Linked DNA regions of Homo sapiens: regions 1 and 2 are each linked to region 3. The links come from fine-mapping of genetic effects on gene expression. A gene starts in region 3. Each other region holds a variant in brackets. All regions are shown on one strand. Distances are from middle to middle. Region 1 overlaps USP31 (ubiquitin specific peptidase 31). Region 2 overlaps USP31 (ubiquitin specific peptidase 31). Region 3 holds the start of USP31 (ubiquitin specific peptidase 31).

Region 1 (2,760 bases), 78 kb after region 3:
TTCTCTTGAAGCTTGCAGGGGGTGAGTTCAAAGCAGTGAAAACAAGGCATCTCTCAAGCAGAATGACGCCCTGCTGGGGGCCAAGCCCACCCAGTGTACAGCCACTCACTCAGTTAACACAGCGGGAACTCCAGTGCTCTTCCACCAGTCTCAGATGTGCTCAGAAATGACACCTTCTTGAGGTCTACTTGAGACAGTCATGCTGCTTCATGTACTCTGTTTCAAGAGCAATTTCTCTTGCCCTAATAAATATTTAAGGGCGTCCCTGGAACAGACAGGGCAGATTGACATATAGCTGTGTGTGTGTATTATTAATATTATGAAAATGGTGACAAATTTCCTTAAAACAGGCTGAGAGAAAAAGAGTATACTGCCGCATCCTCTCTTCTCTTTGTGTAAGAAATATTACTGCAATTGCTTAGAACAGTGCCTGGCATGTAGATGCTTCATAAATATTTGTAGAATGAATGTATGAGTGCTTGTCTATTCCATTCTCTTGCCAATTCTTTAGACTCAGACTTACATTATAAAGTATTCATCCCTATCCTTGCATTTTATTACTACAAATTTCATGCGTCAGGAAGTCTGCCTTACATCTTTTCATCTTAACTGGGGATATTCGGACAGGCACGACATGACACAGGGTCTGGGAATTGATGCTGACCTCGGGGTGAGGACATCAACGCCCCCCAGCTCAGCTCGTAACACCTTCATGAGGGTGTGTGTGGCTCAGGGCTGGCCGAGGGACCCCAGCCTGACCTCTATGCCTGTTTTCTTCTCTGCAGGCTCCACAAGTTCTTCCCTGTGTGAACACTGGGTGAGCCGGCTCCCGGGCAGCAAGCCAGCCAGCGTGACCTCTGCAGCTTCCTCCAGACGCACCTCCCTGGCGTCGCTCTCTGAGTCCGTGGAGATGACTGGAGAAAGGAGTGAAGATGATGGTGGGTGTGGGTTTTGGTGACAAATTTCCAGAATGGTAACTCACAGACACAGCAGAGTCCCTCGTGTTTTTCCTAGGAGCTAAGTCCCAAGGAGATGGTAGGAGAACCCAAAGGGAGCTACAGGGAGTGGAGCTGTGTAGCTGTGAGTTATGATCCTAAAAAGCATTTTGTATTAACAGAGTCATTTGCTTTTCCTGTGTCCCAGTACTTTCTCCTTCCACTTCATTATTTTCCACTTGTAAGGTCTCTTGTGGAGGCTGGAGCTTTATATACCAATGTATACTTTTTTTTTTTTTTCCCAAAGTGTTTTAAAAAGCAGGATAGCTGGAAGAGGCTCAGAGAGATTGTGCTTTGCCCAGGCCACGTGGTGGGGAGTCGGCTCCAGGCTTGGCA[T/C]GGAGGCCCCTGGCTCTCTTGGCCCCAGGAGAGCCTCACCTTCCAACATGCTGCTCCCCAGGGAGGAAGCTGTGGAATGTTCTTTTTAGTACAGAAGCATCTAAAACAAAAGCTGTTGTTGCCTTTGCATAGAGATAGTAAAAAGTCCGATAAAAATTGAACTCTTTTTTTTTTTTTTTCTTTTTAAACTTTCACTTTCTGCTTGGGTAATGGCAGGATAGACCTTAGTTTCGACAGGGACCCAGGTGGTGTGGGAAGGACCGGGCAGCCACAGTACTGGGAGCTGGAAGGAGTGAGTGCAGCTTCTATAATGAGCATAGTGACTCAATCTGCCAACAAGTCTCAGTCTGCAGCCAGCATTTCGATCACTGTAATCTGCTTCTAGTGGTGATGGATAATTCTGAGAAAATGAAATTGAGTTAAAATTGCAATAGGCTGGAAGAAGAATGCCAGGTGAAGAGAGCTGCACCATAGCTCTAGCTCTGCCACCTCTTCTGGCTTGTTGCCTCTTCCTCTTTATTTGTAAAATAAAAACATTGGACTGCAATTCCTAAGCTCCTTCCGGCTCCTCACATCTTATGGAAAACTGACTGGTGAACCTTTGCTTGTTTAGGCAGAGGTTATTTTCAGTACTGCCTTTAAACTTAGAATTCACTGTCATTTTAACGATAAGCCTCAATAAGGTTTGCCTCAGTCTATTTTTAAGCAGTGCAGTTGGTGAAATCAGTATCCTTTTAAGCATCATCATTGTATAATGGTGCTGGGTGGTGCCCACAGAATAGAGCCTGTTTCTTAGGCTCTATAAAGACAGAATTTTGTAAATATCACAACTGTAGTATCATTGTGTAGAAAATTTAATTTAGAATATTTTCTTAGGACGTTTTGAGCCACACCAAATAGGAGTATGTGGTTCTGATTATGAGTATTTTTTTTTTTTTTTAAACGGAGTCTGTCTCTGTCTCCCGGCTGGAGTGTAGTGGCGCGATCTCGGCTCACTGCAAGCTCCGCCTACCAGGTTCACGCCATTCTCCTGCCTCAGCCTCCCCAGCAGCTGGGACTACAGGCACCTGCCACCACACCTGGCTAATTTTTTTGTATTTTTAGTAGAGACGGGGTTTCACCATGTTAGCCAGAATGGTCTCGATCTCCTGACATCGTGATCTGCCCACCTCAGCCTCCCAAAGTGCTGGGATTACAGGCATGAGCCACCACGCCTGGCCTCTGATTATGAATATTTTTTTGGAAGTTTTAAGTTACTGGATTTAGGAGTATATGATATCCAAGTCTTTTTAGCTCTTTGCGTTGATCCACATCTGTAGTCAACAATGACAGGCCAGCTTACATGTGGAATTGAGTGGTGCGGGAAGGGGTTCTGGGTTCTGGTATTAGCTCTTCCTTTAATGAGTTGTGTAATCTTGGTCAAGGACTT
Region 2 (2,760 bases), 85 kb after region 3:
TCATTGCGTTCAGCCCAGCACATCACAGCCCCATCAGTGTGTAGCCACCGCTCTCGTTTTTCTGTATCGCTTTTATCTCCTGAAAAAGATGCACCAAATAAGAGATCATCTATATCAGGAATTGAATGTCTAACTCAAACCTCTCATTTTTGTTTAATAGGTAGATCTCATTTGAAGTCTCCTATCTGAATCTCTGAAACAATTATAGTTTGATTAGACAAAGGTTTTTAATAACACTTCTTTTTTGCTGTAGTCAAGCATTAATAGAAACTAGTTTAATTTTCACAGTGGTAAATATTTTTATTCTTGAGTTATCTAGGAATGGATTTTCCACGATGTCTAGTGACTTAAAAAAAAAAAGGAAAAACGTTTCTACAAATCCCTTTGGTTTTCCATGGGATCTGGAATAAAATGTCAGTGTCTATAAACTGTATGTCATGGAGTTTAGTCCTTGTTTCAGGTTTAATAGAAAAAATCAGGAAGTATCATGGCATTGTCTAGACATCATGAAGCTATTTTATTTCCATAGTTGGTAAACAGTGAAAATTTCATTATCTCCAACTACTAGGTACAACTTTAGGCCACAGGAAAGGTTATTTGGCCCGAAAGTTTGGAGGTGCTCCTTGAGGTGGGAAGTATCTTGTGGGAAAGTAGTTACTTGATTCAATTTAGTTCATTGGTAGGGTTGGGGACTTGGTGTTGGTTTCTTTCTTTCTTTTCTTTTTTTTTTTTTTTTTAATTTTCCCAGCAATATTTAGCACAATGAGCGTGTATGTGCTTTGGGGTTAAAAATTATCTGCTAGGGATGATAGGCCTGGGTTTCTCGTTGACATCTAGATGGGCCTGATTAGAGCAGTCATCTCCTGGTAGGCACAAAATAATCACCAACAGTAATGTTGTATCTGTAATGTTTGTTTGCTTTTTAAAGTTTTATTCTTGATTTCTTGTAAACATCCATTGCACTGAGGCCGTATCATTCCTTAAGACAGCCCTACATCTTGCCTTGGTAATCCCTTAGATAATGTGGAAACTCAAACCGTTAGGCTCCAGTCATCTTAGACCATTTCCCATCCGTTTTGTATTTTCTCGTCCTGAAAGCAGCTGAACTGAAAGTAAGTAATAATATGCTGGACCAGTGGGAACGGATGTGGGAGTATTTGTGGTGTGCTAAAATACTGTAATTATCTGTGAGGCTGCCTGACACGCTTTTGCAATCTTGTTTTCATCATTCATTCTGCA[A/G]ACGTTTATGGAGGGCCTTCTTTGAGCACAGAGGCAAAACTGAAAGCTTCAGGGATTTGCTGTAGCTGAGGAGCCCTGGGAGCACAGCCCATCAAGCAAGGGATGTGATGGTGTCCTAAATGGAGTGACAGTTCTCCTGGGAAAAGAGATCACGTGGATTCCGGTCAAATCGGCTAAGGCTTGTGGTTCTCTTGAGCAAGTCTGTTCCTTCTGGAAACCAAAAGTGCCCTTCATCTTTAGAGACATTTTACTCTTCCATCCACCTTTTCAGACTGAGCTGTCTCTACTATTTAGGGGTTGAAAATCCATTACACAGTCACTTTACGTTAACATTGGGTCATCTTATGTTTGTATGAGACGGATGTGGGATTTGAGGGGAACATTGTCATTCCCTTAAAATAACTATCATGAAAAAAATAGCAACAGTATGTAAAGGGACCAAGAGTGGCAGCCTTTAGGGAAAATGGAGCAGAGAAGAGCTGTGAACAAAGCTCATTTATTTGAAATAAGCGTGCTTTATTTCACATAGAGGGGCATCAGACGTTACATTTCATTCGGACAAATTACTGAACAGCCGAAGTGATTGTTTCCAATGTAGGTTATTATAATTATTGGATACAAAGATTTAACTAGTGTTTCTGGGTTGGATTTTTGAAATAGTATGCAAGTCATAAGCACAGTTTCAATAAAACACGTATTCTGGAGGTGCGTGGAACTTTGTATTATTTGTAGTTGAGAAAGGCAAACTTTGCTGACAAACCAGTACCTATCACAAACGAACACAAAAAGTAGCTGTTACTGTGCAGGCTGTCTTTAACTTTCATTTCATAAAGGGTACATTATTGTTAAACTCTACTACATGGTTTGGGGAGAAATCCAGTGGTTTTATTTAAATGAACACTCTCACACTGCCTTTTGATCAACTTTCAAAGTATTTTGCAGATGCATTTTGAGCATGACCATTTTTTTCCCCAAGTAAAAACAATTGTGCGTGGCCTCCATATAACTCAGAAAGCATGCTCTTACTACCTATGCAAGCAAACAATAAAACATATAGACATGAAATGTTAAGTCTTAAAAAAAAAAGGCAACAATTATGGAGCTCTATTTTTAAATTTGTGATTTTCAAAATATGGCTTACTCATCATTGTGTAGAAGAGCATGAATGCGATTTCTTGTTTTGCTCTGCATATATTTCTCTGCTGTTTTTCTGATCATTGGCGAGATTGTAAAGTATTTTGCAAGCAGAAGTGGAATTGGATATGTTGAACACACATCATTGGTGTACATACTGTATTTAGCCTGAAGACTTTCCTAAAGTGTTTTGTTCTAAAAATAACCTGCCATTTTCTATAGATTTTAATTTTTTATATCTTCAAGGGTTCTATTTTGGTCACAAGGAAAGAATGTGGCTTCTAATAGTGCTAAGAATTAAAAGATGCTTTTATAGAGACTTAGAGCTATTTTGAAAAGCTTTGGGGCTTCCCAGCCACTGATCACAATTAGACTAAGCCCATGGAA
Region 3 (2,760 bases):
TAGTGTGAATAATCAGATGGCTTTCTTCCTGGTGTCCAGATAAGAATTTTGACTAAGAGGAGAGTGGAGCCGATTAGGGACAGTGCAGAGCACCCTGGAGATGTCATCATAGAGCCCTACTTACATTGGGGAGGGAGGTCAAAGGTAAAAACCATTTACTTTGAAACGTGGTGTAAGGTGGCCTTCATGTTTTAAAAAGGAGGAAGGGCTCTCCCTTCTCTGATTTCTCTCTTCTGCCTCAGGACTCAGACTAGCCCTTTTAGCAGAGGGGAGCCTATAGAGAGGAGGTCATATACTAGTTGATTTTGGACTAAAGGCATCCCAAAGATGTACTATTTTTTGCTCCCTGCACTATTTTTTTTTTAATGGAACCAACGTTTAAAAATAGGATTTCTGCCTTCTCTTAAAACATCAGATGATCTGGTAACGCTGAGCTCCTGTTCTCACATGGGAACAACTGGCTGGAGCTGAGTGGCAGCCACCTCTTTAGAAAGATGTTAATTTGAAGTCTGCTATAGTCCCCATCATTCCTTATATTTCCCCCAACACTGAGACCCAAGTCACTTGAAAGTCAATATGATGATTCAAACACCAGGATTCTTCACTCATTTGTGGGTTTGTGACCTGTGATATTTGTGGATTCGTGACCTTTGGTTTAGAGGTCAAGTATAGGGGTTGTAAATAAAACTTGGGTTTGAATCAGATAAGAACTGTACCAATCTCAAAGACGGTGAATTAAAGATTAAAGAAAATATTGCATGCTTGGCATAATGTGTGGAACACAACAGCTATTGTAAACACCCAGTAGGAATGTAAGCTGCAAGAGGGCAGGTAGAAACCGTGCTAATTTAATCCGCTGGGGATATGACATTTGATTCTAATTTAATAGGTTTAATTCTTTGCAATATCCCCAGTAACTGCTGAATGAATGAGTGAGTGAATGAATGAATGGAATGATGAATGATGGGAGAGCCCGGAGGAGTTTTAAAGGCTGGAATGAAAAGGAAAGTAGTTATGATAACAGCGTTTCGCTGGGACTCCAAGGTGCAGCCAGGAAGAAAAGCCCGCTGGGACGTGCCAGGGTCTGTGACTGCGCTCCGCTGGCACCCAGAGGGTAGGTATCTGCAACGTCCCTTGGGAGCCAGACAGGGCTGACTTGCCCAGGACCTGTCAGGGCCATGTCCACCAGCTCTTGCACGGTCTGGTAACTGACAGCATCCTGATTCCTGCACGTTCCCGCCTCTGCCATCTGACCAGCAAAGACAGAGACCCACCCCGGGGATCCACCATCCAACGGGAGCCCAGCCTTTTCCTCCAAGCCGGGACGGCGCCCACACTAGACATGGCCTCCCTCGGGCTTCACGCAGCAGGACCGCGCCCGCAGCCTCCAGGCATCGCGTCCGGCTGGAGAGGCAGCTACCGTCCCACAGTGAACATGGCGGCCGAGGCGGCTTCAGCGCCGGGCGGGCGGCGCCGGGAGGCACGTCACGTGAGCGGCTCAGCTGGGCGGACCGCGCGCGCGCCCGCTGGCCCCGCCGGCCGCCGCTCGCTCGCTGGCTCGGCTGCGCTTTGAGGTGTGTGGGGCGTCGAGCCCCCGGGCCCGGTGAGGCGCGGCGCTGCGGGATGCGGCGGCGGCCGTGGCGGGGCCGCGGGCCGGGCGGGCGGGCGCGGTGATGAGTGTCTGCGGCCGCCGCCATGTCCAAGGTAACGGCGCCTGGGTCCGGGCCGCCGGCGGCGGCGAGCGGGAAGGAGAAGCGCTCCTTCAGCAAGCGGCTGTTTCGGAGCGGCCGCGCTGGCGGCGGCGGCGCGGGGGGCCCCGGGGCGTCCGGGCCGGCCGCGCCTTCCTCGCCCTCCTCGCCCTCCTCTGCACGCTCGGTGGGCAGCTTCATGAGCCGCGTTCTCAAGACGCTGTCCACGCTCTCGCACCTTAGCTCTGAGGGCGCCGCCCCAGACCGCGGCGGCCTCCGCAGCTGCTTCCCGCCCGGGCCGGCCGCCGCGCCCACGCCGCCGCCGTGCCCGCCGCCGCCCGCCTCTCCCGCGCCGCCCGCTTGCGCCGCCGAGCCGGTGCCCGGCGTGGCGGGGCTCCGCAACCACGGCAACACGTGCTTCATGAACGCCACGCTGCAGTGCCTCAGCAACACCGAGCTCTTCGCCGAGTACCTGGCGCTGGGCCAGTACCGGGCGGGGCGGCCCGAGCCCTCGCCTGACCCGGAGCAGCCTGCGGGCCGCGGCGCGCAGGGCCAGGGCGAGGTCACTGAGCAGCTGGCGCACCTGGTGCGGGCCCTCTGGACCCTGGAGTACACCCCGCAGCACAGCCGCGACTTCAAGGTGAGCCCGCGCGCCGCCGCGCCCCCACTGCACCCCGAGCCCCTGGGGCACCTGCCCGCCCAGGTCTTCCTTCCCTCGGTTCCTCTTGGCCCGGCAGGCTTCTGCATTGGTTGCTCCGAGTGGTCTGGGCAGTCGACCAGTGATTTTAAGGAGATTCATTCATTCATTCATTTATTCACTCACTCACTCACTCAAACATGTATTTATTGAGAACTTACTACATACGTGCCCATACTCTGTGATAATAGGCAATGGGAGTGACGTTGCAATGAACAAGACTATCCGCCTTCATGGAACTTGCATTTTTGTGGGGTGGGAGTGTTGAGCATGGGTTCAAATCCTGGTTCTGCCACTTACTAGCAATGTGACGTCGGGTAAGTTAAGCAGCCTCTCTGTTCTTACAGTTTCTTCATCTGGGGGACCTACTTTGTA

The links.
Region 1: its variant is fine-mapped to the expression of USP31 in transverse colon (GTEx, PIP 0.99). The same link has a PIP of 0.9 or more in esophagus mucosa and thyroid.
Region 2: its variant is fine-mapped to the expression of USP31 in whole blood (TOPMed, PIP 0.97).

The regions. Positions count from the first base shown.
Region 1 is chr16:23,070,223-23,072,982 of GRCh38, reverse strand. USP31 (ubiquitin specific peptidase 31) reads left to right here. Exons shown (of 16, transcript NM_020718.4): 15 at 786-938. Among named protein-coding and RNA genes, the nearest start is that of USP31, 78 kb to the left of the region's middle. The variant T/C (reference allele first, on the strand shown) is at 1,332.
Region 2 is chr16:23,063,300-23,066,059 of GRCh38, reverse strand. It overlaps USP31 (ubiquitin specific peptidase 31), which reads left to right. Exons shown (of 16, transcript NM_020718.4): 16 at 1-2,760. Among named protein-coding and RNA genes, the nearest start is that of USP31, 85 kb to the left of the region's middle. The variant A/G (reference allele first, on the strand shown) is at 1,240.
Region 3 is chr16:23,148,206-23,150,965 of GRCh38, reverse strand. USP31 (ubiquitin specific peptidase 31) reads left to right here and starts at 1,514. Exons shown (of 16, transcript NM_020718.4): 1 at 1,514-2,328. The coding sequence starts at 1,696. RefSeq lists an enhancer at 1,114-1,333 and silencers at 1,514-1,613, 1,764-1,813, 1,914-2,013, 2,144-2,373.